Homo sapiens: one gene and its partners. The protein of the gene in region 2 purifies or fractionates together with the protein of the main gene of each other region. This does not show direct contact. Each region holds a gene or a part of one and is shown on either strand. Other genes may lie near its edges.

Region 1 (4,230 bases), on a different chromosome or scaffold from region 2:
GTAATCCCAGCACTTTGGGAGGCCGAGGTGGGTGGATCACTTGAGGTCAGGAGTTCAAGACCAGCCTGGACAACATGGTGAAACTCTGTCTCTACTAAAAATACAAAAATTAGGCGGGCATGGTGGCATGTGCCTGTAGCCCCAGCTACTCAGGAGGCTGAGGCAGGAGAATCGCTTGAACCTGGAAAGTGGAGGCTGCAGTGAGCTGAGATCGTGCCACTGCACTCCAGCCTGGGCAATAGAGCAAACAAACAAACAAAAAACCAACCAACCAACCAACCAAACAAACAAAAACAGTTTGGAGTACCACATAGGGCCCTAAGGGGATAGCTGGGGCCAGAACCTAGCTCCAAATTAATGGTGGTGACAATGGCAGAAGCAGCAGTGGTGAGAGGCTGGGTTGTCTGTTTCCCAAGCCCATCCCTGTGGCAAAAATGTCATCTTTCTGGCCTGAGAACTGGGATAGGAACTGCTAGCATTAAGTATAAATGCCAGTAAATTATTAGAAAATAAAAACATACACGTGGACATTACAATGAAGCATATCAGAGATATATTAGAAGCCTTCAAAGAGTTTAGAATCTCTGGTTTTAAAAACTGCTACAACACTGGAAAGCGAACATCCACAGGTTTGGAAATAAAAATTAAAGATTGTTGCATTTGATAGGAAAAAACCCACTATTCTCATATGCAATTTCTAATGAACCAATTATTAATGAGGAATACAATTTTTAAATTTAATTTTTCTTTGTAACTGAAGATGCTGCTATAGAAAGCATAAACAAGCACTGTGAATTATAGACAAATCATTAAGTGATTTTTGGTTTCTTATATGATCTTTATATGTTACAGAACATGCTAGAGAAAACATTAAAATGACATCATAGAGATTTGTATTTAAAATTAAATTCCAACATGTATGAAACTAATGTGTATGAAGAGTTAAATCTTTTTAGAAAATCTGATCCCCAAGAATAATCACCTCTATATAAACTAAAATTCATATTTGGAAATACTTTATTAGAAATCTATGCAAATGTTGGCACAGCCTACAAAATACTCTTAGCAGCTCCACTGTCAGTTGCATCAACAGAAAGATCCTCCTCAAAATTAAAAATTAGAAAAAATTGGGGGATACAGTTCCAAGATGGCTGAATAGGAACAGCACCAGTCTGCAGCTCCCAGTGTGATCGACAAAGAAGATGGGTGATTTCTGCATTTCCAGCTGAGGTACCTGGTTCATCTCATTGGGACTGGATGGACAGTGGGTGCAGCCCACAGAGGGCAAGCCGAAGCAAGGTGGGGCATCACCTCACCCAGGAAGCGCAAGGGGTCGGGGGACTTCCCTTTCCTAGCCAAGGGAAGCCATGACAGGCAGTACCTGGAAAATAGGGACACTGCCACCCAAACACTGCGCTTTTCCAACAGTCTTAGCAAATGGCACACCAGAAGATTATAAACCACACCTGGCTCAGTAGGTCCCATGCCCACGGAGGCTTGCTCACTGTTAGTGCAGCAGTCTGAGATCGACCCGCGAGACAGCAGCCTGGCAGGGGTAGGGGCATCTGCCATTGCTGAGGCTTCAGTAGGTAAACAAAGCAGCCAGGAGGCTCAAACTGGGTGGAGCCCACCGCAGGTCAACGAGGCCTGCCTGCCTCTGTAGACTCCACCTCTGGGGGAAGGGCAGAGCTGAACAGAAGGCAGCAGGAACTTCTGCAGACTTAAACATCCCTGACAGCTCTGAAGAGAGCAGTGGTTTTCCCAGCATGGTGTTTGACCTCTGAGAACGGACAGACTGCCTCAAGTGGGTCCCTGACCCCTGTGTAGCCTAACTGGGAGACACCTCCCAGTAGGGGCCGACTGACACCTCATACAGCTGGGTGCCCCTTGAGATGAAGCTTCCAGAGGAAGGATCAGGCAGCAATATTGCAGTTCTGCAATATTTGCGGTTCTGCAGCCATCTGCTGGTGACACCCAGGCAAACAGGGTCTGGAGTGGACCTCCAGCAAACTCTAACAGACCTGCAGCTGAGACACCTGACTGTTAGAAGGAAAACTAACAAACAGAAAGGAATAGCATCAACATCAACAAAAAGGACATCAACACCAAAACCCCATCTGTAGGTCACCATCATCAGAGATCAAAGGTAGATAAAACCACAAAGATGGGGAGAAACCAGAGCAGAAAAGCTGACAATTCTAAAAACCAGAGTGCCTCTTCTCCAAAGGATCACAGCTCCTCGCCAGCAATGGAACAAAGCTGGACAGAGAATAACTTTGACAAGTTGACAGAAGTAGGCTTCAGAAGGTTGGAAATAACAAAATTCTCCAAGCTAAAGGAGGATGTATGAACCCATCTCAAGGAAGCTAAAAACCTTGAAAAAAGATTAGACGAATGGCTAACTAGAATAAACAGTGTAGAGAAGACCTTAAATGACCTGATGGAGCTGAAAACCATGGCAGGAGAACTACGTGACGCATGCATAAGCTTCAGAAGCTGATTCCATCGAGTGGAAGAAAGGGTATCAGTGACTGAAGATCAAATGAATGTGTAACGCCTAACCTTGTTTTTTACTCTAGCTCACTACTTTAAATTTTCCTTTTTTTGTCTCCTTAATTGCCAGCCATGTTTCCCATATGAATACACTCTCCCTGGCTGGGAAAGCCGGACAAACTCCATTTGACCTCTTGATTTACAAGACATTAAGGGCTCCTTACCCAACCCCCTTCCTTAAGGAGTTAACCTGTGTAAGCAGATCCTCAGCATTTCAAAGGAGCCCAATTAACTGGTAAGATACTGGAGCAAACAATGTATGAAGTTCCCAGGGTTTTGCTCAAAGAGATAACAACACAAAGCCTTGAGTTCCTGTCTGGCATAGCATTTATATCTAACTATAATGAAGGATTTAGAGCCTTGCACCTGGTACCCTTGCTCTTTTTGTAACCATTTGTCTTTTAAATTGTTCATTTCTCTGTAACCATTTGCTTCTTTTGATTCTTGCATGTTTTTACTTCTGTAGAGTTATTGCATTTAAGTCCCCCTCCCCTTCCTAAACCTAGGTATAAAAGTTAAGCCCCTTCATCGGGGCCAAGAGAATTTTGAGCATTAGCCATCTCTTTGGCCGCCGGCTTAAATAAAGGACTCTTAATTTGTCTCAAAGTGTGGCATTTTCTCTAACTCCTGTGGCTATAACAAATGAAATGAAGCAAGAAGTTTAGAGAAAAAAGAGTAAAAAGAAACGAACAAAGCCTCCAAGAAATATGAGACTATGTGAAAAGACCAAATCTACGTTTGATTGGTGTACCTGAAAGTGACAGGGAGAATGGAACCAAGCTGGAAAACACTCTTCAGGATATTATGCAGGTGAATTTCCCCAATCTAGCAAGGCAGGCCAACATTCAAATTCAGGAAATACAGAGAACACCACAAAGATACTCCTTGAGAAGAGCAACCCCAAGACACATAATTGTCAGATTCACCAAGGTTGAAATGAAGCAAAAAATGTTAAGGGCAGCCAGAGAGAAAGGTCAGGTTACCCACAAAGGGAAGCCCATTGGACTAACAGCTGATCTCTCGGCAGAAACTCTACAAGCCAGAAGAGAGTGGGGGCCAATATTCAACATTCTTAAAGAAAAGAATTTTCAACCCAGAATTTCATATCCAGCCAAACTAAGCTTCATTAGTAAAGGCAAAATAAAATCCTTTATAGATAAGCAAATGCTGAGAGATTTTGTCACCACCAGGCCTGCCTTACAAGAGCTCCTGAAGGAAGCACTAAACATGGAAAGGAACAACCGGTACCAGCCACCGCAAAAACATGCCAAATTGTAAAGACCATCGATGCTAGGAGGAAACTGCATCAACTACGAGCAAAATAACCAGCTAACATCATAATGACAGGATTGAATTCACACATAACAATATTAACCTTAAATGTAAATGGGCTAAATGCCCCAATTAAAAGACACAGACTGGCAAATTGGATAAAGAATCAAGACCCATCAGTGTGCTGTATTCAGGAGACTCATCTCACGTGCAGAGACACACACAGGCTCAAAATAAAGGGATGGAGGAAGATCTACCAAGCAAATGGAAAGCAAAAAAAAAACAAACAAAAAAAAAACAAAAAAAAAGCAGGGGTTGCAATCCTAGTCTCTGATAAAACAGACTTTAAACCAACAAAGACAAAAAAAAAAAAAAAAAGAGACAAAGAAGGCAATCAAAGAATGG
Region 2 (4,230 bases):
TTCTATTACTTTATTTTGAATAAGACTGGTATAAGCCAATATTCAGAACCTCTGACTAGAACCTAATCAATTATAATTATATGATTACAAAAAATGTCTTGCTTTTGCCATTGTTAAATAAAAGTTTGAATGCAAATATCCTATGAAATATAAATGTGGAAAAAGGGCAATATTTCCATGTGAACAGATCATTAATTTCAAATACATTTATAAAACTAAATTAATAAATTAAATGTTATATATTACTGTTTCATTTGCTTCCCTACAAGTTTATCATTCAAAATGAGGGGGGAAGTTGAAAATTCAAAATCGATCTGTTCATTGGAAACACAAGGAAGATTATTTTATATTCAAGATTATTTTATATTTGGAACTTCTAGGATCATTCGAAGACAAAGTCAGATCTGCAGATCTTTAGGCCTCAGATAACTGACTTCTCGCCTAGAACTTTAAAAAGCAGTTGAGAATCCAATTCTTAGCAAATATCTCAAAAGAAAACTGAATTTTGTAAGTGAATATCATAGAAAAATTGAGTGAGGTAATTTTATTTTAGAAAAATACTGTTAGGGAATGAAGTGATCTCAAGGGGTACTGCCAACTCACTCATTTAACTGATGAAATAATGCTGAAAGAGGCTGACTTACCCAAGATCATATGGCATGAGGGCTTACCATGCTAAGTGCTTTTCATGAATGATTTCTTAGTTTCCCATGACAACTCTATTCATGTCCCTACTTTACAGCTGAGGTTTAGAGAAGTTAAATGGCTTGCTCAAAGTTACTCAGCTAATATGTGGCAGAGCTGGGATTCCAGTCAGATCTCTCTAGCTTCAGAACCAGAGGGCTCAATGGTGTTGCTATACAAGTCTTCAGCTTCTCATCAGGACCCCCTGCCCAGAATCACATGGTTTTAAAAAAACATTTCGCCAGGTTTGAAATTCCTAAACTAATTTAATTGGAACAGAAGAAAACATCATTAGAAATTAGCAAAAACATTGGCAAAATAAGAGAAAAAGATATGGGGGAGAAAACAGGTCTAACATTATTTTGAAGTTTATAAAAACATCTAAAAATAAAAAAGGCATGAGTTATTCAAAGGAAGTCAATTTTACCTGGTTAATTCTCTTAGTCGAGTCACCTCAGCATCACGCTGACGTAATGTTATCCCCAATATCTGGTTTTCCTTTTCAGCAGTTTCTAACTTAAACTGGGAGCTTTTCACATTGACTAGGGCTTCCTCCAATTCTAAAACAACAAAAGTTTCAGTTTCCTTATTCCTTTTAAAAGATGTGACCATAACTACTGTCTAAATACGTACCAATTTTTATTCTTGTTATCTCAATATCATATTGCTGTTTATTTTCAAGTATAGTTTGATCTTTGTCTTTAAATATACTACTAAATTTTTTGTTTTCATCTTTCTGATTTTCAATCACTTTTAACAGCTCTTCATTTTTACTCTGCAGTAATTCCTGGCTCTTTAGTGACTCCTCCAATTGATTTTGCAGTGACATATTCAATGACTGAAGAGAAAACACTGTTAAGACAAAATGGATCAAATAGTTGTTTCCCAAACCTAAAAAGTACAAACTTGGAAAATACCTGTTTCTTAAAAAAAAAAAAAAAAGGCCTGAAATTTATTGATTTTGTTTAACGATTAATTGCATGAGCAGTTCTACATAAATACTACATATATTTTTAAAAATGATTGGCAGAAGTCATACCTTTCTTTTCCAGTTGACATTTTAAGCATTAATTTTTTAAACCCTTTTAAAAGAAAGAATACATAATCCTTTTAAAAGAATAATACATGTACAAAGTTAAAAAATTCAAACACCACAGAATGTCAATGATTCTCAATGAAGAATCTCCCTTCCACTCCTCCTCTCTGTCCCCAGAGACAATCAGTATTAATTTTGGTATCTTTCGTGAAAACACTTTTACATATGGTATTAATTACACTACATACACACACATACTATACACAATTTCTAACTTTGCCTTTTTTTCCCATAAGACTGTTGTATACAAACACATAGATCTATCACGTTCTTTTTCATGGCGATAAAAGTATATGGCACCATTTGTTGAGCAAATACATGCTCAGCGAATGCTTCCTATGTGTGAGGTATTGTATTAGAATCTGAATATACAGAGATGAACAACACAGACGTGGCCCCTGTTCTCACAGAGCTGATAACAAACAAGTAATTATACACAGTAATGATCTCAAAGAAACAATAAGATAAATGATCAGATAATATAAATAAGAGAAGCTATTTAAAGTGGCAACTACTGATCTCCCCACTTGTCCTCTAGGCCTCCTCTCTCCTACCCTCTCCCTTTCCTCACCTTTGGTTAACAGTGGAGACACAGTGATAATTTCTGAATCACTCTGGTGAAACTGAACACTTTTATAAAGTGCTCATTCTGTTGGGCAATCATATTTTTTTCTTATTGATTTATAAGACATATTTATATATTAAGAAGATTAAGCCTTCATCATGTCATGTATTGTTTCTCCATTTTGCTTATGTTTTGAATGTATTTATAATTTTGCTATGTAGAAACTGAAAAAGTTTTCTGGGGACATATTTTATCAATCTGTTCCTCTGTGGCATTTGAGTCTTTGTCAGGCTTAGGAAAAGTTCCCCTCCAAAAAAATAAAAAAATAAAAATTCTTATATTTTCTTCTGGTACTATTATAGTTTCTTTATTAAGCTCTGTGATCATTAAGGACAATTTGGCAATATCTGTCACAATTGCAACTGTATATACCCTTTGGCTCAACAATTCTACTGCTATAAATCTATCCTACAAAAATGCTGGCCAGGCGTGGTGGCTCATTGTCTGTAATCCCACACCTTGGGAGGCCGAGGTGAGTGGATCACTTGAGGTCAGGAGTTCAAGACCAGCCTGGCCAACATGATGAAACCCTGTCTCTAATAAAAATACAAAAATTAGACAGGCGTGGTGGCAGGCGCCTATAATCCCAGACACTTGAGAGGCTGAGGGAAGAGAATCACTTGAACCTTGGAGGCAGAGGTTGCAGTGAGACACGATCGCACCACTGCACTCCAGCCTGGGCCACAGAGTGACGCCGTCTCAAAACAAACAAACAAACAAACAAACAAACAAACAAAGCTGACATATATGCACAAAGACATATACAAAGATTTTCACTGCAATGTTGTTTGCACTGGGAAAAAAGGGGAAAGTACTATTAGCAAAGGACCATATTATGGTAGACCTGGATAAGCAGAATACCCAAGTAATTCTTAAAGAGAAAGATGCATAATTATGTATTTTGATAGACAAAAGTGTCCATTATATGTTAAGTGAATAAACAGAAGCTGTGGAAAAGTATGTACAGTGTGATCTCATTTTTAAAAAAGTACATATATAGTTCTATTTGTGCCTGGCACACAGTAGGTATTCAGTAAGTGTTAAATAAATCAATTATATATGAAGAGAAGATATGTAAAAGGAAACACACTCCTGTATTTCAAAACAAACAAACAAAAAAAGGTGTATATTATTGGGAAGTGACAGCATCTTTTATTTTCTTATGTTTCTACAATATTTTAAATTTATCCCCTCAAAGTAATTACAAAAGCTCAATTCTTTATCAACATTTCCGGAGCCACAAATAATTTATCAATCCTTAAAGTTCTTTTACCTACATTCAAGGTTGCAATCCACAGCACCAGATGGTTTTTGAGTTTTCTGTTGTTCTCTGAGTTGCTGGTTCAAAATTCTCAACTGCCTAAAGAAATAATGAAGAACTATGAATGCAAGCATACCAAGCCAATTTAATAGTATACATGTGATAGCCTATCAAAAAAGATAAAACATAAACCCACTAAGACAGCAGAAGTCCATCTCATCCCCAAAAGACAAAAACTAAATAAACAAAACAAAAACAAAACCATACTACTATTATTATGAGGCCTGAGATAATTTTTAAGGTTGCCTGAAACAACATAAAACCTCCCCTCATGGGCCAGGCGCGGTGGCTCACGCCTGTAATCCCAGCACTTTGGGAGGTCGAGGTGGGCGGATCACCTGAGGTCAGGAGTTTGAGACTAGCCTGGCCAACATGGCGAAACCCCATCTCTACTAAAAATACAAAAATTAGCTGGGCGTAGTGGCGCGTGCCTGTAATCCCAGCTACTTGGGAGGCTGAGGCAGGAGAATTGCTTGAACCTGGGAGGTGGAGGTTGCAGTGAGT
Region 3 (4,230 bases), on a different chromosome or scaffold from region 2:
AATAAGAAGAAAAGAAAAAGAAAAAAAAGAAATAACAAGACCATACTTTTATTTACATCAAGAAAAGTAACATACATACAACATAGTACCCAACAAATTTGCAATCACACGTTCTTTTCAAGATCACACAGAACATTTAATGTTGATTATTCACTGGTAAAAGAAAGTCTCAATAATGTTCAAAGGACTGAAACCAAAGACAGTATGTTATCTTACAATAGCACTATTAAGTTAGTATCAAGAACCAAAAAAAAAAAAAAAAAAGGAAAATCCTCTATATGTTTGGAAGTTCAGAAATCACTTTTGGCCAGGCATGGTAGCTCATGCCTATAATCTCACTGCTTTGGGAGGCCAAAGTAGGAGAATCACTGGAGCCTAGGAGTTTGAGGCTACTTTGAGGCTACAGTGAGCTATGATTGCACTACGCTCCAGCCTGGGCAACAGAGCAAGACTCTATCTCAGAAAAAAAAAAGAAGAAAGATCTCAGGAGGAATTACAAAATAAATTTTAAAGTATTTTGAAGTGAACAATAGTGAAAATGTGATACCTCCAAACTTGCTTAAAGAGAAATCTGTAGCTTTAATTGCATATACTAGAGAAAAAGTCTGAAGTTACAAATGCATTCCAAGAAGTTAGAAAAACAGCACCAAATTAAATCCAAAGAAAGCCAAGTGGAGTAAATAAAGATAAGCCCAGAAAATAAAGAAATTGAAAATAAACTCACAAAAAATGATAAGAAATATGATCATCTCAAAAGTTATTTTAAAAAAGCACCTGATGAAATTCAAGATATATTCATGATAAAGCCTTATCAAAGTAAGACTAGAAGGGAACACTGTTATTATAATGAATGCTTACGTAAAATACACAACAAACATCATACTCATGAGTAAAAATGTTGAAAACTTTCCCTTGAATTAGGAATCACATAAGGATAAATTCTTATGACATTTACTCAACACTCTATTGGAGGTCTAAGTTAATGCAGTAAAGCAAGTAAAAGACCTAAAAGACACAAAGGCTGGAAAAGATGAAACAACTGTCATTATTCATAGTTATGAGTGCATATGTGATTAATCCAAAAAAACCACAGATACATACTTAAAAATCAATCATGAAGATTAACAAAGTTGTTGGATACAAGGTCAATATATAAAAATTAATTATATTTCTAGATACTGGCAGCATAAAGTTAGAAAACAGTAAAAGATGCTATTTATAGTACCATAAAAAAAAATAAATGCCCAGTAATAAATACAACAGAAGATGTTTAAGACCTCTACACAGAAAACTATGAAACGTTTCTCTGGAAAAAACTTTAAAATTCATATGAAACCAAAAAAGAGACTGAATAGCCAAAGCAATCCTAAGCAAAAAGAACACACCTGGAGGCATCATGTTTCCTAACTTAGAACTACACTACAGGGCCACAGTAACCAAAACAGCATGGTACTGGTGCAAAAAACAGACACATAGGCCAATGGAACATAATAGTGAACCCAGAATTAAGGCCACATACCTACAACTATCTGATCTTCAACAAACCTGACAAAAACAAGCAATGAGGAAAGAATTCCCTACTTTAAATGGTGCTCGGATAACCGGCAAGCCATATGAAAAAAGACTGAAACTGGACTCCTTGCTTACACAATATATAAATAATAACTCAAGACGAATTAAAGACTTAAATGTAAAACCCCAAACTATAAAAACCCCGGAAGACAACCTAAGCAACACCATCTGGACACAGGAGTAGGCAAAGGTTTCATGACAAAAATGCCAAAAGCAATTGCAACAAAAGCAAAAATTACAAATGGAAACTAATTAAAATAAGGAGCTTTGGCACAGCAAAGGAAACTATCCACAGAGTGAACAGACATGCTGCAAAGTGGGAGAAAATTTCTGCAAACTGTGTATCTGACAAAGGTCTAATAGTCAGCATCTATAAGGAACTTGAACAAATTTACAAGAAAAAAATCCCATTAAAAAGTGGGCAAAGCTCATGAACAGACACCTTTTAAAAGAAGACATATATGCGGTCAGCAAGCATACAAAAAAAAGCTCAACATCACTGATCATTAGAGAAATGTAAATCAAAACCACAGTGAGATACTACCTCACACCAGTTAGAATGGCTATTATTAAAAAGTCAAAAAATAACAGATGCTGGTGAAGTTGTGGAGAAAAAGGAACATTTATACATTTTGGTGGGAATGTAAATTAGTTCAACCATTGTGGAAGACAGTGTGGCGATTCCTCAAACACCTAAAGACAGAAATACCATTCGACCCTTTAATCCCATTACTGAGTATACACCCAAAGGAATATAAATCATTCTACCACAAAGACACATGAGCATGTATGTCCATTGCAACACTATCCACAAGAGTAAAGACATGAAATCAACCTTAATGCCTATCAATGGTGGTCTGGCTAAAGAAAATGTGGTACATGTATACCATGGAATACTATGCAGCCATAAAGAAGAACGAGATCATCTCCTTTGCAGGAACATGGATGGAGCTGGAGACCATTATCCTTAGCAAACTAATGCAGGAACAGAAAACCAAGTACGGCATGTTCTCAATTATAAGTGGGAGGTAAATGATGAGAACACATGGAGGGGACCAACACACACGGTGGCCTATTGGAGGGTGAAGGGTGGGAGGAGGGAGAGGATCAGGACAAGCAACTAATGGGTATTAGGCTTAATACCTGGGTGACAAAATAATCTGCACAACAAATGCCCATGACACAAGTTTACCTATATAACAAACCTGCACATGTACCCCTGAACTTAAAAGATAAATTTTAAAAAAAGAAAAACTTAAAACAAAAAATTAATCACAATACAAACCTCTTTTTTTTTCCCTGACAGAGTTTTCAATTAAGAAAAAAACTAGATCTGTGTCCTCAGTAATTAAAATAGGATAAGAAGTAAATTATGTATTAATAATGAGGGAAACACTTTCAATCTTCATAGATTGACTATAATCTGGAGAAAATTTTACTGTAACTTAAATGTTATTATTTCCTTCATTCTACAAGTACTTATCTGGCTTGTTTAATTTGCGTTTCCTGGATACCTGAAGATGCTGGTGTATGTATGTATATATATATATATATATATATACACACACACATTCATTGTTAGTTTCAATTTACTAATATTTTATTTTGGATTTTAGTTCCAACATGCATAAGTGAAACAGGTTTACAGTTTTCCTTTCTTGCAAGTATGCTTTTTGTGTAGCAGTTAAGAAAAGAGACACTGAAACTAGACTGCCTGGGTTCAAATCCCAGCTCAGTCACTTACTAGCTCTGTTAACCTTGACTTTGTGAAGGCACTTATCCAGAGGGTTCAGCTATCTATAGGTACTAAACAGCATTTGGTATGAGAACTGTAAAGGCAAACCAACCAATCATGGCATGAGGTGTTACTGGGCATCAGCTATAGAAAAGCAGGGGTATAATCATATTAAGATTACTGACAAGCGCAGAAGGACTAATGGGCAATGGTTACAGCCTGTAAAAGACACCAGTAAAAACAAACTGGGAAGCAGTCAAGGTGGTAAAGAAAATGAAGGGCTCAAAGGATGAGGAGGTCAAAGAACAGTTATAGTAGGAGTAAGATACTTGAGTTTAAGACATCAAAAAGTAGGGCAACTTGAATAGGACTTCTGCTTATACTCAAGAAGAAATAACATGGACCACTTTTCTGCCTGACACACATGAAAAAGCAAGCAAAAAAATCATCAATACCTTATAGTACACTAGACATCAGACAATGATAATCAGAGACAAGAAACAAATGAGGTAAGCCCTATGATTGCCCCACCTTAATGACTTAAGAGACTTTCCAGGGCCATGACACGGGGGGAGGAAATGCAAGTGGAGACCACTGGACTCTTATTAAGAGGTGGAGCTGAGAAGTAGTGGAGATTAAGTGAACTAGAATTGGCAGGACAAAGGATAGAAGACTGCACAGAGAAAGAACCCTAGGGAATGTGAGACCTGCAGAGGTTCTTCTCGAGTACAATACAGAGTACTGAATAGCTCTTTATTTATTAAAGAAATTAAGTTTGTATTTTAAAACCTTTCCACAAAGAAAACTTCAGGTCCAGTTGGCTTCACTGGTGAATTCTATCAAATATTCAAGGAAGAAATAATATCATTTTATACATACTCTTACAGAAAGTTGAAGAGTACAAAATATTTTCCAAGTAATTC
Region 4 (3,713 bases), on a different chromosome or scaffold from region 2:
AACCAGTATGGGTAACATAGTAAGACCCATCTCAAAAAAATAAATAAATAAAAAATAAAGCTAAAAAGCGAACTTTAATATTTCTGACCTGTTTTTTACTCCTGTAAAATGAGAGTGATACTTTCTTCTCTCACTGGTTTGAAGGGAAAAGTTAGCTTTTGTAAAGCATATGTATAAGAAAATTATCTAAAAGCACAAGGGTTAGTCTATATGTTGGACATTTCTTTGCTGATAAAAACCTAAGGTTTGGACTCTTAGTGAGCAAAATACAAGTATCATATTAATATGCTTTAGTCGATTTGCTCTGATTTGTGGTAATATATAGGCCATATTATTGCATAGTTGACCTTTACCTTACAGTCATCATCTTTCATCCGTTGAAAGAAAATGGGAAAAAATGGAATTTAACCTATTAAATTAATTTTTCATTTAATTTGTCAACAGAGTCCTTCAGCCAAACCAAGGACAGAATGCACCTGTTCATAGGCTACTTAGTAGACAAGGGTAAGAATGCCACACACGGGTATTGAAAACTACGGAAACCAAGATTAGATTTGAGAGGGAAAAATAAATCTAGTGTTCTTTATGTAAAGGATAATGGTTTTTCAATGGGATTTTTTTTCTTTATAGCATTGGGAAAGATATTTTAAAGTTTTGTCTTCAAATGTAACCCTCTTGGTGTACTGTTGTGTATTCTAATTACTGTCTTAAGTTGGGATGTTTTTACTTTTCATTTCATACCATTTTACTCATAAAGTATTTTAAATATCCATATAGTAAATTCAGCATCACCGAAGTGATTCTCCAACAGAGTATGACTCGTGCTTATAGTCTCCTGCTGAAGCCAGAGTTTAGCTTTCCTTACTGTGCGCATGCATGAGACTTCAGTTCTTTTCAAGCTTATTTGTGCTTTGGACAGTTGATGCAATGTGATTGCTTTCTTTGAATTTTGAACATTTAGACCTTAATGCCAGTGACTTATTAATTTTTTTATATTCAATTAGAACCCCTAAGACATCAGTGAAGGGGGTTGTGCAAAATAGACAGAAGCCTTCACAGAGCAGAGTGCCTAACAGAGTGCCTGTTTCAGGTTTGTAGAAAATAAATTCCTGAAGCCCATTCAATAGAAGGAAGTGCACAAGCTGCCCCATAACTCAGGCCATAGAAGTGGAATAGATTGTCTTTCCTTGCCACCATAATTTTGGCATATTCACAGTCATCTTATTAGTGTTCTTTGGTCTTAGCATTGTATGGCAGTCAGGAAGTCTTAGTAAAAGTGTGATTCCAGTCTTCATTTCTATAATATTTCTGTGGAAAGCACCTTGTATTTTTCATTCTGAAAAAATTGTAGAATTTGCCATGCTTAATTCAGAAAACCTTTTTATTTAATGAATAAAAGATAACGATCATCTCTGGTGCTAAGTCTGTGCATTGTCTGTTCAGCTTGGGGAAGTGTATCTGCACATAAGGGGATAAACTTTCTCCCTCAGACTATAAGATCACATGTGAATATGCCAGTGGGAGGAGGGCTTCATATTTTGCTCAGTCCAAAGCTTGAGCTAAATCTCTCCTTATGTTCATTATTTGAGGATTAAGAGCTAAACTAAAAACTGTATTTTAAAATTCTGTTTATGGTGGCAAGAAGACAAACTCATTCTTGAGCAAATTCAAAGCTCTTAACCAAATGCTTTAATATTTTTTAGGTATCTTTGTTAAGACACTTTGATTAAGCTCACTTAAAAATTATGTGATCCATTTAAAAATACTTTCCAAATGTTGTGCTTTAACTATACTGCTTTCTAGACATTTACAACAAACCTAAATTAATCACCAGGCATTGAAGATTAAACCTTTAATCAATTTTAATCTTTCCATTAATATACAATTAGGCAAATTTTAGAGCTTTATTACTAAGTGATTTCCTTCAAATTAGGAGGGAACAAGCTATTGGTCGTAACTTTGAAATGATGGCTGACCTTTTGTATGTATGTAGTGAAGGTAATTCATAGTGTCACACATATATAGGATAATTTAAAAGATCATCTTTGGAAATCATTGTGAGTGACAGTTAATGGAATTGTCTTAAAGGATTACATAGCTGAAGATACTGTTTACTCCAGAGGCAGTCAGAATAAGCTAGTTTGAAAGATAACCATTTGAAAGGACTCAGACCAAACACCAAACCTGTGGAATTTTAAGACATTTTCTGTTTTTCTCATGTTAGTATTCTATATTGCACTGAAACTTAGCAAGTTGGAAAATCATTGAGGAATTAGTATTGTTTTGCCTGATACCAATTTGCCACAGTGACTACTCTCCATGTTCTTTTCTCATGCATTTCATCTCCACTATTTGTCACTTGTGAACTTATAAGCAAAATAGCAAGTACTGTTTTTATTCAGCAATACTCAACAGTATAAAGGATGTATAGTCAGTCACTGAAGTTAGTAACATACAATGAAGTTCATTATTTTGAACTATTGAGGTTAAATTGCATTGCAACATACTTATTAATACAAATGAACTTAACCCTTGAATTAATATGTATCTAAACAAGTACAAAAGTCTGTTGCTGTTGTTTTCTAAAGATTTACTTATACATGAGTGCATATTTAGACAATTGAAAGAAACTAAATAATTGTGTTCTTTTTTTTTTTTTGAGACAGAGTCTTGTTCTGTTGCCCAGGCTGGAGTGCATTGGTGTGATCTTGGCTCACTGCAATCTCCACCTCCTGGGTTCAAGCCATTCTTCTGCCTGAGCCTCCCAAGTAGCTGGAATTACAGGCGCGTGCCACCATGCCCAGCTAATTTATTGTATTTTTAGTAGAGATGGGGTTTTACCATATTGGCCAGGCTAGTCTCGAACGCCTGACCTCAGGTGATCCGCCCACCTCGGCTTCCCAGAGCTCTGGGATTACAGGTGTAAGCCACCGCGTCCAGCCAGAATTGTATTCTTTTATATAAACTGAGAGTTTGGGATATTGGCTGGTTAAAATGCTAACTATGAATCTGAACACAGGAACTCACTGTCGCTCTTGAAAAGATTACTCTTTCCTGCTTAGAGTTTTAATGGTCTGAATTATGTTTTAAACAAATTTGAAATTATGTTCTGATTTGCTCTAAATGGAGGCAAATCCTTTGTTAAGCAATTTATAGAAAACTAACTTTTCTTATGATAGAATATCATACTCTTAGACTGAAGTAGAATTCTAAAATGTTAAAGTATGCTGCAAAGCATTTAGTTATTTATAGTTTTACAAACCTAAATTGCAATCTCTGATGTTATCGTAAGTGATCTTTGACTTACGGTTTTAAAACACATTTCTTCATTTGATGTTTTGTGCTTGACTAGAGTTTATATAGTGAAATTCAGAAACCACTAATCAAAGCAGAGTAGGAGGTGGTCATGCAAAATGGTTAAGTAAAATAACACATCAGGTGGACTTGGGTTATCAGAGTTCTTCCTTCTAGCTCTGTTCCTTAGGCAACTGCTCTCCTATGCCTCAGTTTTATTATCCTTAAAATGGTCATAACAATTTCTACCTCAGGATGATTCATATAAGGATTAAATATGATAATGTATATTGCCTAGCTCAGTGTTTGTTCCAGAGTAAAAACTCATTAAATGGTATCATTATAGAAAACCTCCCATTGAGAAGTAATACTGGTTTTGCTCTATTTTTAGGAGTATATGCAGGAAAAATCCAAAGAAA
Region 5 (4,444 bases), on a different chromosome or scaffold from region 2:
TGACTGTGAGGTGTGACTGTGAGGTGTGGACTGTGAGGCGTGACTGTGAGGCGTGACTGTGAGGCGTGACTGAGGTGTGGACTGTGAGGTGGGACTGTGAGGTGTGACTGAGGTGTGACTGTGAGGTGTGGACTGTGAGGCGTGACTGTGAGGCGTGACTGTGAGGCGTGGACTGTGAGGTGTGACTGTGAGGCGTGGACTGTGAGGCGTGGACTGTGAGGTGTGACTGTGAGGTGTGACTGTGAGGCGTGGACTGTGAGGTGTGACTGTGAGGTGTGACTGTGAGGCGTGACTGTGAGGTGTGGACTGTGAGGTGTGACTGTGAGGCGTGGACTGTGAGGTGTGACTGTGAGGCGTGGACTGTGAGGTGTGACTGAGGTGTGACTGAGGTGTGACTGTGAGGCGTGGACTGTGAGGTGTGACTGTGAGGCGTGGACTGTGAGGCGTGGACTGTGAGGTGTGACTGTGAGGCGTGGACTGTGAGGTGTGACTGTGAGGTGTGACTGTGAGGTGTGACTGTGAGGCGTGGACTGTGAGGTGTGACTGTGAGGCGTGGACTGTGAGGTGTGACTGTGAGGCGTGGACTGTGAGGTGTGACTGTGAGGTGTGACTGTGGGTGTGAGGTGTGACTGTGAGGCGTGGACTGAGGTGTGACTGTGAGGCGTGGACTGTGAGGTGTGACTGTGAGGTGTGGACTGTGAGGTGTGACTGTGAGGTGTGACTGTGAGGCGTGGACTGTGAGGTGTGACTGTGAGGCGTGGACTGTGAGGTGTGACTGTGAGGTGTGACTGTGGGTGTGAGGTGTGACTGTGAGGCGTGGACTGAGGTGTGACTGTGAGGCGTGGACTGTGAGGTGTGACTGTGAGGCGTGGACTGTGAGGTGTGACTGTGAGGTGTGACTGTGAGGCGTGGACTGTGAGGCGTGGACTGTGAGGCGTGGACTGTGAGGGGTGACTGTGAGGCGTGGACTGTGAGGTGTGACTGTGAGGTGTGACTGTGAGGCGTGGACTGTGAGGTGTGACTGTGAGGTGTGACTGTGAGGCGTGGACTGTGAGGCGTGGACTGTGAGGCGTGGACTGTGAGGCGTGGACTGTGAGGCGTGGACTGTGAGGTGTGGACTGTGAGGTGTGACTGTGAGGTGTGACTGTGAGGCGTGGACTGTGAGGCGTGGACTGTGAGGCGTGGACTGTGAGGTGTGACTGTGAGGCGTGGACTGTGAGGTGTGACTGTGAGGCGTGGACTGTGAGGTGTGACTGTGAGGTGTGGACTGTGAGGTGTGACTGTGAGGCGTGGACTGTGAGGCGTGGACTGTGAGGTGTGACTGTGAGGCGTGGACTGTGAGGTGTGACTGAGGCGTGGACTGTGAGGTGTGACTGTGAGGTGTTACTGTGAGGCGTGGACTGTGAGGTGTGACTGTGAGGCGTGGACTGTGAGGTGTGACTGAGGCGTGGACTGTGAGGTGTGACTGTGAGGCGTGGACTGTGAGGTGTGACTGTGAGGTGTGACTGTGAGGTGTGACTGTGAGGCGTGGACTGTGAGGTGTGACTGTGAGGTGTGACTGAGGCATGGACTGTGAGTTGTGAATGTGAGGTGTGGACTGAGAGTTGTGGACTGTGAGATATGACCTGTGTGCAGTGTGACCAGGGGAGAGAGGTGCATGAGAGATGGTCGGGCACGGCGGGGCAACCTGGTTCCCCTGGGCGGTAGTCCGGCAGCTGTGCTTCCCCCTTCACTGCAGTGCGTGTTCAGTTGGAAACACGGAGATTTCACCTTTACTCCCTGGCTATAGGGGGATGGTGAGAAGGGGGCTGGGTGTGAGGGGATCTTCAAGGCAGAATCTTAGTTTGTCTTTTAAGAATTGTGTGCCGGGACGTGGTTGGAGGCTGGGTGCAGAAAGGAAGAGGCGAGCTGCTGGAGGAGGCAAGGACAGGTCGCTCTGGGCAGTTTTGTGGGTGCTGCTGTGTGAACCCCTGTTGCTGTGGCCTCAGCAGGGAAGGCTGGTCTGTGGTCAGTTCCTCCCCCTCCCCTCCCCCTTTCATTCCCTCTTCCTTTCCCCCGACCTCCCATTCCCGCTCCCTCCCCCACTCCTCAGGCTGAGGCTGCCACACTTACCTGGGTTCGACCACAGTCTGGTCATAGGCGTAGCCAGGCTCTGCCCCTTACAGGATAAAGGCCACAGACCCCCATGGGGCCCATCACAGGTGTAAGTTACAGAGGGGAAGGGTCCTGAAAGATGAGACTGGGCCAAGAGGAGATGCAGCGGAGCAGAAGGAAGGGGACTGTGGCGGCCGCGGGTGCAGTGCCCAGTCGTGGGCAGGGCCATGTGACTCCCTGGAACCTGGTGGGCCTGTCTGTGGCAGGTCAAGGTACAGTTGGGGGTCATTCTCCTTGAGCACTGTGGCCTGGATGTGGACAAGGCAGGGTGCACAGCTCCCAAACATGGTGGCATTGGGCTTCTGCCCCCAGGATTCATGCTGGCTTCATCCAGTCCTGGCCTGCGGCTCCTTTGCTGTCCAAGTGAACAGGGCCTGGGCCTGCACAGTGGCCCTGTCAGTGGGGTGCCCATCTCTGTGGCTAATGTGACCGAGGTCAGTGGGCCCTGCCTTGTCTAATACTTGTAATGCCCTGAGTGTCCTCAGGTCATCGCTGACTGGGTGATTAGGGCAATTTGGAGGTGACAAAGTGGGTAAAATGTAATAGCACTTTACTTCTAAAATAAAAATGGTCAACAGCATTAAAGACTAGGACTCTTCTATTGCACTATTATGATGTCAAAATTATTATATTTGACTGGGAATTAGAACTATTTCAGTCCCCGTATATTTTCTAGAATTAGAACATTGTTTTGCTAGCCATGAAGTTTATCATCTTCTCATAAAACCATGCGTAGCTGGAATAGCCAAGGCGCCATTCAGTCACTCATTAGCCTGTTCAGCTCATTCATTCATTCCATAGGTGCTGAGCCGCACCTCCAAGGCTGCTCCCAGGGGTCAGGACAGTGGTTGGGAAGGAGGAGGCAGGTGGGCGGTAGCCAGTGGGACACAGAAGGTGATGGGGCCACAGAGATAGGTCTGTGTGCAGGGCCAGGGCACCTTCGTGCCCATGCAGGGAGGTGGGCAGGCCCAGCAGGTGAGGGCCACACCGCTGGAGAGGACGGAAGTGCCAAGCAGCCGCTTCCCTGTTGTTCTGCAGCTCCCTGGTCAGCACCAATGAACACCTGCTGCAGGAGCTGAGCCAGGTGCGGGCGCAGCACAGAGCCGAGGTGGAGCAGATGCACTGGAGCTACCAGGAGCTCAAGAAGACCATGGCCCTGTTTCCACACAGCAGCGCCAGCCATGGAGGCTGCCAGGCCTGCTGACTCCTGCCGAGAAGCTGGGCCACCCCTTAAGCTTCCTGGTAAAGTTACATTGTCTGCACCTTTGTACTTCTTTATTGAGTGTACTGGCTGGCAAGAGTTCTCTCTTCTGTTGGTAATTATTTAGGATTTTTGGAATGTATTCAGGACCTGTAGCTTGGTTTTCTAAAGCACCTCGTAAAATGATATGATTACTCCAAGCCCTCTGCATGTTTTCAGACAGAACACATTGACATATTTTGAGACAAACTGACTATTAATCTTGTATCCAGTATCCTGAGATGAAGTAAATGCAGTGTTCTACTGCCTGATGTGAAAGAGAGCTATGTATGATAATTAAAGAAAATAATTTTCTGTGTAACAAGCAATCTTTATTTAATAAACAAATACATTGTTCTGAAAAGTTAACTTTTTCAGTGGCTGTATACAAATTATAACTGAGTTTGTCATTGAGTTTTTTATAGAACAAGCTGTGCACCATGATAGGTGAGTGGGAATAATTAAGTTCAAAGACTTAACACAAGTGACACTTATAGATGTGGGGGAAAAAACCTTAAAAATATTGTCTTATGATATTAACATATCACAGCGGAAACATCTACCCAAGCCCTGGCTCGCTCTCTTGTTTGCAGTGTAGTTCTGAAAATTATGTCATAATAGGACACAAAACTAGATTTTTAGTTTGGAAACTTCATATCTTATGTCATACTTGCTGTGATTGGTAAGACAAGGTCATTTTTTAAATGACGTTCAACTGATTTGGGAAGAATGAGCAGGCCTAAGAAGAAAATGCTCTGTGCTAGCTCTGTGTGTGTGTGTGCCCTTGCTGTGTGTGTGTGTGCCCTTGCTGTGTGTGTGTGCTGTGTGTGCGCTAGTGTGCGCTTGCTGTGTGTGTGTGCTAGCTGTGTGTGTGTGCTGTGTGTGCGCCTAGTGTGTGTGTGCTAGCTGTGTGTGTGCTAGCTGTGTGTGTGTGCTGTGTGTGCTAGCTGTGTGCGCTTGCTGTGTGTGCTCTGTGCGCGTGCACTTGCTCTGTGTACTAGCTGTGTGTGCATGCTAGCTGTGTGTGCGCTTGCTGTGTGTGTGCTAGCT
Region 6 (4,230 bases), on a different chromosome or scaffold from region 2:
CATAATATTATGTTGATTATATTAACATAATATTATGTTGATTATATTAACATAATATTATGTTAATAATTATGTTAATAAATATTAACAACTGATTCAGAGAAAGGGAGAGCATACAAGTCCACAGTGGAACTCAAAAGGTTGGAAACACTTTTTTTGTAGAATCTACAAAAACAATTAGGCTGGGCACGGTGGCTCACACTGTGTCCCAGTAAATGTATTCAGAGATGCTGCATCACTGCCATCTGGCAACCAGCTCCCATCCTGAAGCTATCCAGGAGCCCAAATGGAATGAATTACCCTGTAATTCATTGTATACATACATAATGTGATAAAAATGACAAGTAAACCTCCAAAAAACAAAAGCCTATTAAATTTGGACAAGTACAAATATTTCAGTACTGCTAGAGTGAAAAGTGTGAGGCCAACTGGGGATGTAAGAGGCCAGAGGCAGGTACTGGCAAGGAGGACACCGTCACAGTTTAGACGCAACTCAAGGGTCTGTGTGAGCATCGTGGCCAAAGTGAGGTGGGTGTGGGAATGGATTAAGTAATATTTAGGAAGCAGAATCAACAGGACTTGCCAAATGATTCGGTTTAGGGGGACTGGAAGAACCGTAGGCAATGATGCCATTTGCCAAGACAAAGAATAAAGAAAAAGTTAAGGCATGAGAAACGGAGGAAGGCGAAATGGTGGCAGTACATGTGCGGGTGGGGAAGGGAGGGTAGAGAAAGGAGCCTCAGGAGAAAAGTGAGTCAGGGTTAGTTATTTAACAGTCATCATCCCGTATGCAGAAGTGTAATACAAGGATAAAACAAGGTCATTTATAGTAGAATCTGGAAGAACTCTGAAATTTAAGAGTAAGGAAAGAGAGTTGTTAATGGACACTGAGATGAGCTGATCAGAGAGGTTAGATAGAAATTGTGAAAGAAAAATGACACAGAAATCAAGAAAGGAGGCCAGGCTCACGCCTGTAATCCCAGCACTTCAGGAGGCCAAGGCAAGCGGATCACAAGGTCAGGAGTTTGAGATGAGCTTGGCCAACATGGTGAAAACCCACCTCTACTAAAAATACAAAAATTAGTTAGGTGTGGTGGTGGGCACCTATAATCCCAGCTATTTGGGAGGCTGAGGTAGGAGAATCGTTTGAACCCGGGAGACAGGGGTTGCAGTGAGCCGAGATTGTGCCATTGCACTCCAGCCTGGCAGACAGGGTGAGACTCCGTCTCAAAAAAAAAAAAAAGGAAATCAAGAAAGGAAGAAAATTTTAGAAAAAGAGAGGTCAAAAGTGACAGACACTGCAAAGGGCAAAAAGAGAAAAGTTTGGTAAACAGGTATTTGGAGACCGCAGACGGCACGGTTTTAGTGGCATGGCAAGGACCGAGATGAAACTGCAGTCAAGACATTTCCCAGCTGGGCGCGGTGGCTCACGCCTGTAATCCCAGCACTTTGGAAGGCCGAGGCAGGCAGGTTGCCTGAACTCAGGTGTTTGAGACCAGCCTGGGCAACACAGTGAAACCCTGCCTCTACTAAAATACAAAAAATTAGCCAGGTGTGGTGGCGTGCACCTGTAATCCCAGCTACTCGGGAGGCTGAGGCAGGAGAATTGCTTGAACCCAGGAGGCAGAGCTTGCAGTGAGCTGAGGTTGCGTCACTGCACTCCAGCCTGGGCGACAGAGCGAGACTCCGTCTCAAAAAAAAAAAAAAAAAAATCCCATTCAGTGAATGGGAAAGTCAAAAGATTCTGGAAGTGTGACTGGGAAAAGAAAGAGCCATTTATATAAAAAGAGTAGCTAGAGAGGCCGGGCGCAGTGGCTCATGCCTGAAATCCCAGCACTTTAGGAGGCCGAGGCGGGTGGATCACGAGGTCAGGCGATCGAGACCATCCTGGCTAACACGGTGAAACCCTGTCTCTACTAAAAAAATACAAAAAAATTAGCTGGGCATGGTGGCAGGCACCAGTAGTCCCAGCTACTCGGGAGGCTGAGGCAGGAGAATGGCGTGAACCCGGGAGGCGGAGCTTGCAGTGAGCTGAGATCGCGCCACTGCACTCCAGCCTGGGCGACAGAGTAAGACGCTGTCTCAAAAAAACAAAAAAACAGGCCGGGCACGGTTGCTCACTCCTGTAATCCCAGCACTTTGGGAGGCCGAGGTGGGCAGATCACGAGGTCAGGAGATTGAGACCATCCTGGCTAACACGGTGAAACCCCGTCTCTACTAAAAGTACAAAAAATTAGCCAGGCATGGTTGCGGGCGCCTGCAGTCCCAGCTACTCGGGAGGCTGAGGCAGGAGAATGGCATGAACCCGGGAGGCGGAGCTTGTGGTGAGCTGAGATCGCGCCACTGCACTCCAGCCTGGGCGACAGAGCGAGACTCCGTCTCAAAAAAAAAAAGAAAAGCAACCAGAGAAAAAACAAAGGAAGGAAGAAGGAGATAGATACGGATGGAGTAACGGTGTGCAGATGGCAGAAAAGATGTTGAGAGAGGAGGGCTAAGAAGGGGTTGCAGGCTAGAGGTGAGGGTATGGCACAGATGTGGAAGGAGAGGAAAGCCAGTAAGGATAGGTGAGAAGACTGCTGTATAATGGTTGAGGGTACAGCTGAATTTGTTTACCATCGATTCATTCTGTACTGATTTGTGACCTTTCTACAACAGTGTTCTCAATCAGGAGTGACTCTGCACATCCATACACCCATTCCAGAAACATCTGGCAATGTCTGGAGAGATTCTTGATTGTCACAGCTGGGGGTGTTGTGTTACTGGCATCCAGCGGGTAGAGGCCAGGGATCCTGCTAAACATCCCATCACGCACAGGACAACCCCTCACAACAAAGAATCATCCAGGCCAAAATGTCAATAATGCCGAGGTTAAGAAATCCTGCTATAGGAGAACACGTGGCAGAGAACTGGATGATGCCACAGCTCAGTTTTTGCTATGCAGGTGGAGCAGAAGAATAATTGAGCAAGGGGTCATTTGCAGGCACTGCAGTTACTACTCAAGTAAAGCATCATGGGGTTTAGGTTTGAAGGACTTGATATCAGAGCTATATACAGCACTCAGAAAACTGAAAAGTCAGGAAGCTATGGAGGTAACAAAGAAGTTAAGGACTACTCAGGTACAAGGAGATGAAAGAACTAGGTATAAGAGATATGGAGATGTCAGAATTTAAGATTTGAGAGGAAGGGCAGTTTTGGGGGTTATGATCCAAGGAGGGCCTGAAGGGGCAATAGCTGGGCTGGGGAATAAAAAAGGAGTATTTTTATAAAACATCTGCTTCTGATATAAACTGGCACTTGTAGGGCATCTCTAATTTATGAAGACTCCATCAGAGTTCTAAAGCAGCAGCATCGTTTCTTTACCTGTCCTTCACAAGCTTCTTTGTAGAGTTCCAGTTTCTTCAGCAAGTCCTCATTTTCTGCCTCACACTCAGCCATCTTCTTTTGATAATATTCCAGGAGCTCCTTAGAAGGATGGAGTTTGGCCAGACGATCTTCGGGGGAAGGCAAGGGGGTTGACTCCAGTGAATCTGCCATTCCCCTCCTCTTGGTGGGACCACTGACGGCAACACCACGTTTGGAGACAACTGTTCGCCTACGTGAAATTAGAAATGATATATTCATCACACTCTGCGAAAGTTTATGAGTTATAACTTCCTAAATAAAAGGGGGTTTTGTGTTCCCAAAGTGCTTATAATTAAGGTGCTCATAAATTTGGAAGTTTGGACAGGCATAGTGGCTCATGCCTGTAATCCCAGCACTTTTGGAGGCCAAGGTGGGAGAATCACTTGAGCTCAGGGGTTCAAGACCAGCCTGGGCAATATAGTGAAACCCTGTCTTTATTTAAAAAAAAAAAAATCTTGGCCGGGCGTGGTGGCTCACACCTGTAATCCTAGCACTTTGGGAGGCCAAAGCAGGCAGATTGCCTGAGCTCAGGAGTTCGAGACCAGCCTGGGCAACATGGTGAAACCCCGTCTCTACCAAAATACAAAAATAAAAAATGAGATGGGTGTGGCAGTGCACGCCTGTAGTTCCAGCTACTCGGGAGGCTGAGGCAGGAGAATCGCTTGAACCTGGGAGGCAGAGGTTGCAGTGAGTCGAGATCATGCCATTGCACTCCAGCCTGGCGACAGAGCGAGACTCTATCTCAAAAAAAAAAAACAAATTGAAAGTTTGATATTACAGGATAGTAAATAATTTTATTAATTATCTTCCAAGTACTAATGGTTTAAA
Region 7 (4,230 bases), about 81 Mb from region 2:
AAGAGAGTAGAGAGAAGGGACATCTTGTCATGTTCCCAGTCTTAGGGGTAAAGCGTGTAGTTTCTCACTGCTAAGTATGGTGGTAGCTGTATGTTTTTTGTAGATGTTCTTAATCAAATTGAAGAAGTTCCCCTCTATTCCTAGTTTACTTAGAGCTTTTATCATGAATGAGCATTGGATTTTGTCAAATGCTTTTTCTGTGTCTACTAATATGATTGTGTGACTTTTCTCCTTTAGCCTGTTGATGTGATAGGTTTATGTTAATTGATTTTCTAATGTTAAACCAGCCTTGCATACCTAAAGTAACTCCTATTTGGTCATGTGGTATAATTTTTCAAATACATCATTGGATTCAATTTGCTAATATTCTTGGAGAGGAAGTTTGTTTGTTTGGTTGGTTGGTTGTTTTTTTTTTTTTTTCTTTGAGACAGGATCTCGCTCTTTTCCCCGGTCTGGAGTGCAGTGGTGCAATCATGGCTCACTGCAGTGAGAGGAAGATCTGAGAATTACCTCCCCTCCTTTCACTTGACTGGCCCATCAAACTCTTTCTTTGCTGCAAAACTCGCTGTTTTTAGTGCATTGGTTTTCTGAACAGCAGGCAAGATGAACCCGTCAGGCTGTTACTTGCTTCCAGCTGTCTCTTCTTCCTCTTCCCTCTCCTTCCCTCTCTCCCACCTCCTCACTCTACACCTTCTCCTCATGCTGCTTTGTTCATACTCTAGGTCTCAACTACCTGAGGCTCCAGCTCAGACTTCCCTTCTGAACCCCAGACCCACCCAGCATCTCAGCCAGCCAGCTGCCCACCCAGCATCTCAAAGTCCACCACCTTGTCTGCAGCGTGGAAAACTGCTCCTCTGTCAGGGCCTGCTGTCTCCCCAGTCACTCAAACCCAAACCGCCTAGGTTTCTCCCCTCTCCTTCTCTGCATAGTTGCCTTCAGTCCCTTCCATTTGGCAGCAATTCCTCTTCCCCCTCCTCCATCTCCACTGCTACAGTTTTGATTTAGGCCCACATGGCTTCCCAGAGACCCCCTCCTAGCTAGGCCCTTTGCCTCCAGCTCTGCAGAAGGCAAAGCTGATCCTGTGTGCACCCTCTGAACATCTCCAGCGCCTCAGGATAAAGTCCAGGCTCCTTAGCTGGGCAGATCAGACCCTTCTTCTGGTGCCTCCCCAAATGTGCCCTGCCCTCTGGCCATTCTGAACCTTTCATAGTTCCCCACACTCATCACATTCTCTGCACATGCTGTTCTGGCAGGAGAGCCCGTTGCCCCCCACTCAGGCACCGTCCCTTCCCCACCCAGGTGAATTTCTTCTGCATTCAGCTTCAAATTGACTGAGATGCCTGTCTCTCCTGCAGCTTCTCTCTCCCCAGACAGCCTCTCAGAGTGCTTAACACCTCTCATTCTCAAACCAGCTGAACGTTAGGCTCACCTGGGAAGCTTTAAAAATACAAAAATGTTAGCTGGGCGTAGTGGTGCATGCCTGTAGTCCCAGCTACTCGGGAGGCTGAGGCAGGAGAATCGCTTGAACCCAGGAGATGGAGGTTGCTGTGAGCCGAGATCGTGCCATTGCACTCCAGCCTGGGCAACGAGAGTGAAACTCCATCTCAAAAAAATAAAAATAAAAATAGACACCCTGGCCACAGCCCAGATAATTAATTTCAAATCTCCACTGGCCTCATGAATAGCACAGATTAGATACTAATACTCTGGGGGCCGGTCTGGACCACAGGTGTCCTCTCAGTGCAGGCATTACTGTCTATCCCAGAGGCTCCGTTGGGCCAAGAGCACCACTTTTCATACAGTGATAATGATAATTATTTCCATGCATTCTTCCACTTAATCTCACAAACTCCCTGTGAAGTTCGTAAGTATCAGAGTCCCATTTTACAAATGGGAAACGAAAGCAAAGAGGTTAAGTAATTTGCCTGGGGCACAGTGTACATTCAATGAGTACCAGTTCCTCAGTGACTTCAAGTGCAAATTGGGAGTAGAAAAGGAGAAAAGCTTTACAAGTTACTGTGTTCATTCATTCAGTGACAATTCTACAAATGACAGTTGAAGGCCTGTTCTGGGCAAGATGTTGAGATTTAGCAAATGAATAAGGTATTAGGACCCCTGCCCTTAAGAGGTCTCTTTGTAAAGGGAAGTAATGTAAATAAAATAATAGATAATTATAATACACTGAGGTTAAGTTTAGTGATCAAGGGGTGCCCTAGGGATTCTGGGAGTCCACAGAGTGCCCTGAGGGGAATCCTAGAGGCTAACTGGGAGTTAGTGGGAAGGTAAAGGGCTGGGATGGGGAGGCCTGGGAGGAAGGCCTCCCAGGTAGAGGAGTGGCTGAAGCCAGCCTCTGAGATGCCACTGGGCTTAATCCACAGCAGGAGCCACAAACCCAAAACATCTGCTGTGGCTGATGGGAAATAAAAGTGAATCCAGCAGGTTTAAGAGAAAGAACAACATTTATGTGCAGTGATAATGGGCAGCTGATGTGCCAGCTGCAGCATCTGGAGGTGGCAGGGACAGTGGTTTAATGGAAAGAACCTATTATGCACCAAAGGAACTCTCTGCATAGCAGCTGCTGTCCGTGTGGGACGATGGGCCCAGCATTGCCAGATCTGTAAACTTTTATAAAAGAAGCTGGTGTAAACTAAACATAAAATTCAGAGGCCCCCCATCCATCTGAATGGACTTCCTTCTCAGCCAGGGCACTCCAAAGTTAACCTGAAAGACCAGTTCAGGCCTTGATGGGAAGCAAGGGTTGGACACGCCTCATTATACCCTCCTCCCTTTTGGAATTCAGGAAAAGTTGACCAACATTTAACATCAACACAGACCTTAAGTCTGATAAGAAACATTTACAATCTATTCTCTCTGAAGCCTGCTACCTGGAGGCTTCATTTGCATGATCAAAACTTTTATCTCTTTTATTCTAACCCAGATATTCCTTTCTATTTATAGTAACTCTTTTAACCAATTACCAATCAGAAAAATTTTAAATCTACTTATCACCTGGAAGCTCCCCCCTCCCAACCTTGGAGTTGTCCTGCTTTTCTGGACCAAATCGGTATATATCTTAAATGTATTTGATTGATGTCTCAGGTCTGCCTGAAATGTATAAAACCAAGCTGTGCCCTGACCACCTTGGGCACGTGGTCTCAGGATCTCCTGAGGGCTGTGTCACAGGCCATGATCACTCACATTTGGCTCAGAATAAATCTCTTCAGACTGGGTGCAGTGGCTCACACCTGTGATCCCAGCACTTTGGGAGGCTGAGGTGGGTGGATCACTTGAGATCAGGAGTTCAAGACCAGCCTGGCCAACATGGTGAAACCATGTCTCTACAAAAACATACAAAAATTATCTGGGTGTGGTGGTGCATGCCTGTAGTCCCAGCAACTCAGAAGGCTGAGGCAGGAGAATTGCTTGAGCCCAGGAGGCAGAGGTTGCAGTGAGCCAAGATTGTGCCACTGCGCTCCAGCCTGGGTGACAGAGCGAGACTTCATCTAAAAAAAAAAAAAAAAAAAAGTACATCTCTTCAAATATTTTACAGAGTTTGACTGTTTTTGTTGACACTGGAAATCTGATATTGAAACTACAATTCTTTGAATGTTGGCAACAAATTCAAATCCTAACATAGTGTTCTGTAAGAGCCAAACAAAAATGTCTGTGGGATGTGTTAAACTAACTGTAGCCTAAAGCTGCCTTCTTATATATTCTAAGTTCAGCCTAAAGGTTTCTCTGTACGTAGTAAACTGTAACCTGACTAGGAATTTAAACAGACTGCAATCTACTCTTGTACCAGTCACAGAGTTTCAGCCAATCACAGGCAGCCAGCTATTCAAATTGTATTCAAAAAAGGCAAACAGCCAGCTGTAATCAGTCTAGCTGTTTCTGTACCTCACTTGTGCTTTCTGTTCATCACTTTCCTTTTTCTGTTCATAAATCTTTTTCGACTAGGTGGCAGCCCTGGAGTCACTCTGAATCTGTTCTGGTTCTGGGGGCTGCTAGATTTGTGAATCATTCTTTGCTCAGTTGAATTCTGTTAAATTTGATTTGTTTAAAGTTTTTCTTTTTTTATTTTGGAGACAGGGTCTGACTGTCACCCAGGTTAGAGTGCAGTGGCGCGATCACAGCTCATTGTAGTCTCAACCTCCTGGGCTCAAGCTGTGCTTCCACCTTGGCCTTCCAAAGTGCTGGGATTACAGGTGTGAGCCATCATGCCTGGCCTAA

Evidence for each region.
Region 1: the proteins of CCDC14 (region 2) and KIAA1328 purify together in Homo sapiens (affinity purification with mass spectrometry; one large-scale study listed by BioGRID and IntAct). This does not show direct contact.
Region 3: the proteins of CCDC14 (region 2) and SCLT1 purify together in Homo sapiens (affinity purification with mass spectrometry; one large-scale study listed by BioGRID and IntAct). This does not show direct contact.
Region 4: the proteins of CCDC14 (region 2) and CCP110 purify together in Homo sapiens (affinity purification with mass spectrometry; one large-scale study listed by BioGRID and IntAct). This does not show direct contact.
Region 5: the proteins of CCDC14 (region 2) and CEP72 purify together in Homo sapiens (affinity purification with mass spectrometry; one large-scale study listed by BioGRID and IntAct). This does not show direct contact.
Region 6: the proteins of CCDC14 (region 2) and CCDC77 purify together in Homo sapiens (affinity purification with mass spectrometry; one large-scale study listed by BioGRID and IntAct). This does not show direct contact.
Region 7: the proteins of CCDC14 (region 2) and CCDC13 purify together in Homo sapiens (co-immunoprecipitation; one study listed by IntAct). This does not show direct contact.

What each region holds. Positions count from the first base shown.
Region 1 is NC_000018.10:37,216,873-37,221,102, reverse strand, and holds part of KIAA1328 (protein hinderin), read right to left. Parts: intron 1-4,230. UniProt on the Homo sapiens protein: Competes with SMC1 for binding to SMC3. May affect the availability of SMC3 to engage in the formation of multimeric protein complexes.
Region 2 is NC_000003.12:123,929,991-123,934,220, forward strand, and holds part of CCDC14 (coiled-coil domain-containing protein 14), read right to left. Parts: intron 3,766-4,230; coding exon 3,683-3,765; intron 1,537-3,682; coding exon 1,318-1,536; intron 1,245-1,317; coding exon 1,112-1,244; intron 1-1,111. UniProt on the Homo sapiens protein: Negatively regulates centriole duplication. Negatively regulates CEP63 and CDK2 centrosomal localization.
Region 3 is NC_000004.12:129,083,205-129,087,434, forward strand, and holds part of SCLT1 (sodium channel and clathrin linker 1), read right to left. Parts: intron 1-4,230. UniProt on the Homo sapiens protein: Adapter protein that links SCN10A to clathrin. Regulates SCN10A channel activity, possibly by promoting channel internalization.
Region 4 is NC_000016.10:19,547,511-19,551,223, forward strand, and holds part of CCP110 (centriolar coiled-coil protein of 110 kDa), read left to right. Parts: intron 1-444; coding exon 445-504; intron 505-1,004; coding exon of another isoform or gene 1,005-1,090; intron 1,091-3,685; coding exon 3,686-3,713.
Region 5 is NC_000005.10:649,796-654,239, forward strand, and holds the end of CEP72 (centrosomal protein of 72 kDa), read left to right. Parts: intron 1-3,192; coding exon 3,193-3,358; 3' UTR 3,359-3,758; downstream 3,759-4,444. UniProt on the Homo sapiens protein: Involved in the recruitment of key centrosomal proteins to the centrosome.
Region 6 is NC_000012.12:411,109-415,338, reverse strand, and holds part of CCDC77 (coiled-coil domain-containing protein 77), read right to left. Parts: intron 3,593-4,230; coding exon 3,361-3,592; intron 1-3,360.
Region 7 is NC_000003.12:42,762,799-42,767,028, reverse strand, and holds part of CCDC13 (coiled-coil domain-containing protein 13), read left to right. Parts: intron 1-4,230. UniProt on the Homo sapiens protein: Required for primary cilia formation and promotes the localization of the ciliopathy protein BBS4 to both centriolar satellites and cilia.